Linked DNA regions of Homo sapiens: region 2 is linked to region 1. The links come from fine-mapping of genetic effects on gene expression. A gene starts in region 1. The other region holds a variant in brackets. All regions are shown on one strand. Distances are from middle to middle. Region 1 holds the start of DLGAP4 (DLG associated protein 4). Region 2 overlaps DLGAP4 (DLG associated protein 4).

What was found. PIP is the estimated chance that this variant, and not a neighbour inherited with it, causes the effect.
Region 2: its variant is the best candidate, but not a certain one, in a credible set for the expression of DLGAP4 in tibial artery (GTEx, PIP 0.52).

The regions. Positions count from the first base shown.
Region 1 is chr20:36,304,296-36,308,674 of GRCh38, forward strand. It overlaps DLGAP4 (DLG associated protein 4), which reads left to right and starts at 2,044. Exons shown (of 13, transcript NM_001365621.2): 1 at 2,044-2,217.
Region 2 is chr20:36,453,876-36,458,254 of GRCh38, forward strand. All of the region lies in intron 7 of DLGAP4 (DLG associated protein 4), which reads left to right. Among named protein-coding and RNA genes, the nearest start is that of MYL9, 85 kb to the right of the region's middle. RefSeq lists an enhancer at 461-1,261. The variant G/A (reference allele first, on the strand shown) is at 2,417.

The sequences.
Region 1 (4,379 bases):
CCACTTCAAGTATATTTAAAGCCCTTACTACAACATTCCCTTCCCTCTCTCCCTCACGGTCACTACTCTCTTGAATTTGCTGTCTATCACTCCCATGCATGCTTTTACACTTGTATTACATATGTATGTGTCGCTAAACAATATATGGTATTGTGTTGTGTGTTTTCAAACTTTATGTATCTGGCATGAAATTATGTTTTCCATCTGCAACTTGCTTTTTCCATCCAACAATATATATTTTTATTTTAAAAATTGTATTGAAGTATAGCATTCATACAAAGAGCACACAAATTGTAAGTGTACAACCCTGGATTTTCACAAACTGAATCAACAGTGTGTTTTTGAGATTCAGCCTCACAATGCATAAGCTTGCAATCACCTATTTTGAGGATTGTGGATCACAGACAGTTTTCCATTGTCTGAATGTGTTGCTATTTATCCAGTTTCCAAATGATGGACATTTAGGCTGTGTCCAGCTTTTCACTATTACAAACGATGCTGCTATGAGCATCCTTGTGCAAGCCTCCCGGGCCCCCATGTGAGGTGTTCTCGAGGGCAAAGCCTGCTCATCTTCAACCTGATCATATATATACCGCCAGGTCGCTGTCCAGCCCCTGGCTCTCGCTGGCTCCCAGCTCATTCGCCAAGATCTTCCCACTGCTCCAGGGAGCCCACTCTCCTCCTTGCTGACACCCTGCCCAAACATGCCACCTCTTTGCCTGCTGCATGCAGGTGTTAAACTCACCTTTCCATCCAGGCTTTACTGAAGCCCTGCCTCTTCCAGGAAGCCCTCTTGGGCAGCGCTGGGCCTCAGGGTGTCATCTCCTCTGAGTGACCTCCTCTCACCCCAGTTGTTAGAGCCAGAGAAGATAGAGACAAACCCAGACCAGACACTGGGGAAAGGGGAATGTGTTCTGGAGAAAGGAAATATGGGTAGACTAGTAGGGAGTGTGAGAAGCTGGGGTACGAAACAGATTGCTCTGGGCCTTGATGGATGAGTAGGAGTTTGTCAGGTAGAGAGGTGGGAGGGCATGGCAGGCACAGGGAAAGGCAGAGGCTGGGCACTGAAACAGTCATCACTGGGTTGGGGATGTGAGCAGGGTGGGTGGGTGGTGGAGGAGACTGGAACAGGGCTGTGAGGAGCCTTGCAGGCCACCCTTTCACGCCATTCTGACCCTTCTGCATTCAGAGGCATTCTCTGGAGATGGCTGTGTGTGGGAGCCAGAGAAGGCAGGCACATTCATTTGACACCTACTGAATGCCAGGCACCGGTAAAGAGCTCATACCCATGATCTCTTTGGTTTCTCACCCAAGTTGGGGATAGAGACTCGTGGTGTCCCCATTTTACAGGTGGAGGAATGGGGCTCAGAGAGGGACAGTCTTTTGTCTGTAACCACAGAGCCAGGAGAGGCAGGGCTGGTACGCAGTTCAGGTTCATCCCACTCCAGAGACTGCATTTAACCCCCGTTCAGCCAGAGGCTAGAAGACACCTGGGAGAGGGTTCTGCGGAAGCAGGTCACCGGGAGGGGGCACCCATTCCTAGAGGCAGGAGCCCCAAGTTCTCGGGGGTGGGGTGGTTCCTGACTGGCGCGGTGTGACCCGGGCCAGTCTCGTTCTCTCTGGGCCTCAGTTTCCCTCCTCCACGGGGCGGCGATGGTCAACACAGGTTCCTGCCGGCCCGCCCCGTAGCCTGGGGTTCCAGGCTCCCGTGCCACCGCGGCCCGCGCTGTGTGACCTTGTTCCAGTAGCCTGCCCTCTCTGGACTGGCGGCCCCGGATTTCCAAGCGCTCTTCCGGATCGCGACAGAGCGGTCGCCCGCTGCGGAGACCCTCCCCCTTCCCCCGGGTTGCGGGGGCGTGGGTGGGGGTGGGGCGCCAGGAACGGCGCGGGCCCCCCCAAGGCCCCCCCAGCCCCGCGCCCGCGGCCCGATCCGCGCCTGGTTTTGGGCGCAGCCGCACGGCCCCCTCCCCCGCGCTCCTCTCCCCTCTCCCCGCCCCCTCCCCGCCGCTCTCGGGGAGCCGGGGCCGCACGGCTCCTCCTCCCGCAGCCGCATCTGGGGCGCCGCGCCGGCCGGAGGAGAGGCATGGGGCGCCCGCGGGCCGGAGCCGGGGCGGGGGCCGGGGCCTAGGCGCGCGGACCTGCGAGCGGACCCGAGAGGCGGCGGCGGCGCAGCGGAACGGCAGAGCGGGCCGGAGGCGGCCGAGGCGCCCGGCGCAGGTGAGGGCGCGGGGGTGGCGCGCGGCGGCTCCTACCCCCTTCCCGGGCCGGCGCGCTCCGTCCCTCGGCTAGACCCCCCGATCTGGTCTCCTCCCCGACAGACCTCCCTGAACCGGGGGACGGCGCTGGCGCAGAAAAGCCCCCTCCCCTGCCAGTTCTGTCTTCCGATCCCGGGTCCGAGGGGCCGGCTGTGCGGCTGGGAAGCGCCTTCTCCGGTTGGGATCGCCCCATCCATGTCTCCCCGGACCCTCAAATCGGGGGCGGCGGCACCGGGGCCCGGAACCCCTGTCCGGGACCGGATCCCCATTCCGGCTCTTTTTCCCGCGGACTCCCCCGTACCCCATATCAAGCGGCTGCCAAAGCCTGGAAGCCCCCTCCTCAGGCCCGCCCCCTAATCCGCAGGGCGGCCTGGGGGTCAGGCGGACCCCTCCCGTGCCCGGCCAACCTTGGCGCTTGGGAGAGCAGGGCTATGCCGGCCCGGGCATTCCTCCATTCAACCCAGCTGCCTCGGATCCCGTCTCGGTAGACCCGGGAGCCGCCGGCTCCCCCCTTCCCGAGCTCTTTCCCTGACCTGGCATCTGGGGAGGGGGCGGGGGCAGCACCCCCCTCCCGCGCTGCATAGCGCCCCCTCCCTGTTTGCGTCCCTGGGAGGGGCTGGGCTGACCCGGGCACCTGGGCTGGGGGGGCACTCACATGGCTACCGGAGGCCCCCACGTGCGGCGCCCCGCGGAGACAGGGGTTCGCGTTCAGAGCTGGTGGCGGATGGACCAGGTGGCCGCGGGGACCAGCTGGGTCCAGATGTGCTGGGCCTGCTGGAAGGGGACAGGTGCTACCTGGACGTGTAATGGCCCTTGGTCTCTTTTGGCCGAACCTGCCGCTCCGATCCCCCTCCATCCCTTCATCCCTCCATCCCTCCATCCCTCCATCCCTCCGGCCCTTCTCCCCTTCTTCCTCCGCTGCCTGTGTTGCAGAGAGGGGCTGTCAGAGACTGTTGATGTGGGAAAAAATGAAATGGGGGAGGGGTTGTGATTGGCAAAGGCCAGTTGTGCCGGGAGCGGTGGGTAGAGGAGGTGCCCTGAGAATGGGAAGCCCTAAGCTTGGAGGGCAGCGCTGATGGGGAGAGGGTTCCTGGCACCCCCACCTGCCTGGAAGTGGAAATGACATAGCGGGAGGGGGCTGCAGTTCCAGCCCCCGGGGGACTGGCCTGCCCTGCCTCTACCTCCACTGCACCTCCTCTCCAAGCCTAGTCCCCAGTAGGGAGGGGGGAGTCCTGGCTCTCTCTGCCTCTGAGCCCTCACTTGTGGGAGGGGGCTGTTTTCCGCCAGCTGGAAGTGGTGGGAATCAGTTGTACAGGACCATCTCCTAGAATGCCTGTTGGAAGAGCCCTGTTTCTGTCCCTCCTTGGTGGCCACCTCTCTCTTGCCTTCTCTGCCAGAGGGCACTGGGCTGCCTGGTCCCAGGGTGGGGCTGCAGAGCTGGTGCCCTGGCCTGGCCGATGGGTGGCTGGAGTGTTGGAGCCACCACCAGGCCCTAGAGCCGGCTGTCGGGGCCAGTCAGCAGCAGACTCCGAGTGTGTTCCCAGCAGCTCCGGAGACGCTGGCTGTGCACGTGGGGCTGGCTAGAGTGCCTGTCTCCCGCTGTGGCAGGGGTAGGCCAGGGATCCTGTGTCCTCCAGGAGCTGGGACAGCGCAACTCAACTTCTGGGAGTGTGCCCGTGTGTGGTGTCCATGGCGACCCCGTACTCACCTGCCAGAGGCCTGGTGAGGCCTGTGCTGGGCGCTGGGGAGTGCAATGGCTGACAGGGTCCCCACCTCCAGGAGCCTCTTTTTTGTTGGGGGAGGCAGCCTGTGTCAGGCATTGGAGACAGTGTCCATGCTGAAGAGAAACTGTGAGCTGGACGGGACCTGATGGCTGGGTTATGTGGAACCCCGGGTGCCAGCCTTGAGATGGAACTGCAGGTCTGAGGGCTGTGCCCCGGGCGTGAAGCTGCCTGGCAGCTGAGTTGGTGTTTTTGAAGGAAGGCTGTGCAGCACTTGGGAACTAGGAGAGAATGTGTGCTTTGGAGCTTTCGGGAGACGCTGACGTATCGGATGTATCGGGGCACCCACTGACATCTCATTAGGTTCTTGTGTGGTTTGTGAGCCACAGGCTTCGTAAATGCC
Region 2 (4,379 bases), 150 kb after region 1:
TGAGCCGGGATCGTGCCATTGCACTCCAGACTGGGCGAAAAGAGTGAGACTCTGTCTCCAAAAAAAAAAAAAAAAAAAAAAGAAAGAAAGAAAGAAAAGAAAAAGAAAAAAGAGTCCGGGCACAGTGGCTCACGCCTGTAATCCCAGCATTTTGGGAGGCCGAGGTGGGTGGATCACCTGAGGTCAGGAGTTTGAGACCAGAATGGCCAACATGGCAAAACCCCGTCTCTACTAAAAATACAAAAATTAGCTGGGCGCCTGTAATCCTAGCTACTCGGGAGGCTGAGGCAGGAGAGTCACTTGAACCTGGGAGGCAGAGGTTGCAGTGAGCCAAGATCGCACTATTACACTCCAGCCTGGGCGACAGAGCGAGACTCTGTCTCAAAAAAAAAAAAAAGATAGAAAGAAAGGGCACTCCTTAAGACACTTAACAGCCATCTGTTGAAAAATTGTCATGTCACACTTTTTGTTAGAATAAGGTCCTTTACTTCCATTTGCCAGAAATTTGTCATAATAATTATATAATTAAATTATGTCTATGTGGTGAATGGCTCCCCCCGATATGTAGCATCCTTGATCAGTATAAAACTTGTACAACCATATATGGCGAGCCTGCCCAAAATCACTCCCTCCACAGACAAACACCAGCACACACAGGCACATCCTCACCACTGTACATCCAGCCACTGTCTCCCTACTGGGTCACCCCTGCTCAGAAGGCTGCCCCCTTACTCCTCAGCATCTGTCTCCAAGGAGTGAGCAATCGGGTCCTTTCTCCACCCCCAGGGCTGTTCTGAGCCCCCACGTTGCTGAAGGGCATGAAAGCTCTGTCCTTCTCACAGAGGCATCTGTGCACTCAGGTCCTGTGCAGGCCGGTGGGTTGATGTAGGGGAGCGGCAGTTATTGAGGCAGTGAGAGCCCCTCTCAAGCAGGGCGTGGGCAGGGTGAGGAGCTGCCTGCCTGCCCGCCCACCCACGTGGACCTGGCCAATTCTCCACTGCCAGTGCCACTACTGCTGTCCCTGTTCTCCCTCCCCCTGTCTGACCCAGATTCCACATTCCAGAAATAGCTCTGGCAGGTGACTGGCAGGCGGGGTCAGCTCTAGCTGGGATGGTGGGAGAAGCAGCCGCTATGGATGCGTGCCCCTCCCCAGCCAAAGGACCTATCTAGGAGGGGGCTTGGGGGTGCCATCACTCCCCAGTCTGCCCCCTCCTGCCTCTCTTCTCTCTATGCCTCTGAGAAAAAGAAGAAAGGAGAACAGCCTCCCTCCTCCTCCCTCCCTCCTCTTACTCTGCCATCTCCCTCTCTTTCTTCCAGCTTCCCCTCCCTTCCTCTCCCTCTTTCTCCCCCCACCATCTTTGCCTTCTGTCTGTCTCCCTCAGTTCTCTGCTTCTCCCTCCCACCCTCTCTGCCTTCCTTCCCTCTCAGTTTCTGGCCCTCCTCCCCGTCCTCCCTTTCTGTGTCTCTCCCACTCCCTCTGAATCACAGGGAGGCTGTGATGACAGCCAGTGGCCTGGGCAGGCAAGGTGGTGGGCTGCAGGGTGTACCCCCACTCCTGCCAGCTGCATTCTCTGCACCTGAGTGTGTGCAAGCACACAGGCACACACACTTGGGCTCACTCCCTGACAGTGCTTGTGGCTCTAGGCTGACCTGGGATGGGCTCCAGGCCTGGGAACCACCCTTGCTCCTTGCTCAGGGACCCTGAGTTCTGTGTCACTCTGAGTGGGCACCTGCCCTTCCCTGGGCCTCAAAGTCTCTATCTGTGTTGTGAGGCCTTGGTTTGGGGACCCACAGGTACCTCCCATCTGTGACAATCCAGTCATCAGCTGCTATGCCTGCCCCTCTTTGTCCCATCTTCCATCCCCCAGCTTCTTCTCTGACTGCCCTCCTACCCCTAACCTCCCCCCGGCACCACACACTCTGTATACAGGAAGGGAGGTTGATAAAATTGCAGTACACAGTCAACCCTCCAGTCAACCCTGTCCCCCAACCCTACCCTGGGCCCACCTGTCCCCTCACTCCACCGCAGGCTCTTGTCAGCCCAACGCCTCTAGTCTCCACAGTGTCAGGGCTAAGAGGAAACTCAAAGACCATCATGTCCGGAGATTGCAAATGGACTTCAACCATGTGTCATCTCTGATCCCTGGAGCTCAGTTCTGAGATTTGGTTAAGCAAAGAAAGGTGCCACCATCGATTCGCGATGTCTACCGTAGCCAGAAGAGTTACATACATCTGCAATTCCTGATCTAACCCACTTATCCCAACATGCACGTGCGCACACACAGACATGCACACACATTTACAGATATTTCACAAAGAAACATCAGCCTAGGGAAGATGATTATCTATCAAGGTCAAAGTCAGCCAGCTAGTAGGTCAGGGAGCAGTTTCCTACCTGGGTGTGCCTGACTTCGAA[G/A]CCCTGGGTTCTCCATTGCCCCCTGTGCGTGGGAGCCACCCAGTCCTGGTAAAGCAGTACAAGCATGGGTAATGAAGGTATGTTACAGGAGTTGCAGGGGAAGTCCTCTAGCAACATGGGCAGGATGGATTAGAGGCTGAGAGGCCACTCACAGGTTGGTGCAGTGGTCTAGGTAAGTGACAGTGAGGTCAGGACAGGGGCCATAGGGTCAGAGAATAATGGGAGGACCCAGGAGGCCTTCCCAGAATGAATAATGAGGAACCACAATTCCCTACTGCTGAAACAGGCACCTCTCCACAGAGGACACTGGGCAGAAGGCAGGCTTCCTGTCTGGGGTCCACCAACCCTTGGACTACGACATGCCTGATTAATTGAGTGCCTACTGTGTGCTGAGTATATGGATCCTCACTCTTCCATGTCCTGTTTTTAGCAGATCCACTCAGCCTTCTGGGGGAAATAGTGACCAGGACTGAAGGACTGGTGGGCAGGCCTCCAATCCCAGGATTGAGACTCTTGAGACAAGACAGGGGCATTCTGTATCCCCTCAGGGGGTAGAGAAGTCACCCCAAAGGAAGAGAGATGAAGGTGTTTAAATAGAACCTTGGAGGCCCTACGGCATGGTGGTTAAGCACCTGAGCCTTGCAATCAGGCATCTTTCACTGATAGATGTTTATTGATCAAGTGCTCTGGGCCAGGCTGTGTTGTAGGTACCATCAGTGAGCAAAATGGAAATCCTTGCCTTCATGGAGATTGTATTCTACTGGGAAGGGGAAGGGCAGACAAAACAATAAACATAAATAAGTGTGTGGTTTGTTGGTAGTTGGCACAGCATAAGGGGTCCTGGGAGTGGTGGCAGAGTGCAGGGAGGGGTGCCGAGGTATAAACAGGGTGGCTAGGGTACAGCTCATTGAGAGGGAGATTTTGAGTGAAGACTTTTTTTTTTTTAAGACGGAGTCTCACTCTGTTACCCAGGCTGGCGTGCAGTAGCGAGATCTTGGCTCACTGCAACCTCCGCTTCCCGGGTTCATGTCATTCTCCTGCCTCAGCCTCCTGAGTAGCTGGGACTACAGGCGCTCGCCACCACGCCCGGCTAATTTTTTTTTTTTTTTTTTTTTGAGACAAAGTCTCACTCTTGTCCCCCAGGCTGGAGTGCAATGGCTGCAATGTCCGCCTCCCTGGTTCTGGTTCAAGCGATTCTCCTGCTTCAGCCTCCTGAGTAGCTGGGATTATAGGCACCTGCCACCACACCTGGCTAATTTTTGTATTTTTAGTAGAGACGGGGTTTCACTATGTTGGCCAGGCTGGTCTTGAACTCCTGACCTCAGGTAATCCGCCTGCCTTGGCCTCCCAAAATGCTGGGATTACAGGCATGAGCCACCACGCCCGGCCAATTTTCTGTATTTTTAGTAGAGATGGGGTTTCACCGTGGTAGCCAGGATGGTCCTGATCTCCTGACCTCATGATCCGCACACCTTGGCCTCCCAAAGTGCTGAGATTACAGGCACACCCAGCTAATTTTTGTATTTTTAGTAAAGGGGATTTCACCATGTTGGCCAGGCTGGTCTCGAACTCCTGACCTCAAGCTATCCACCCCACCTCCCAAAGTGCTGGGATTACAGGCATGAGCCACCACACCCGGATTGAGTGAAGACTTGAAGGAAGTGTGGGAATAAGCAGTGCTGGGAAGCGCTCCAGGCGGGGGGTGAGTGGTACAAAGGCCCTGAGGCAGGAGGTGCCTGACAGGCTGGTGGGGGGCAGAGCACTGAGGAGAGAGCCATGGTAAGAGGTGAGGTTCGAGGACAGGGAGGGGAGGGTTGGGTCTGGCCACCGACTGTGGAAACAACTTTGTCTTTTGGCTCTGAGTACAAGGGGGAACCACTGGGGCACTGGAGCACAAGAGTGACATGACCTGGTGTGTGTCTTAAAAGAAACACTCAGACCGGGTGCGGTGGCTCACGCCTGT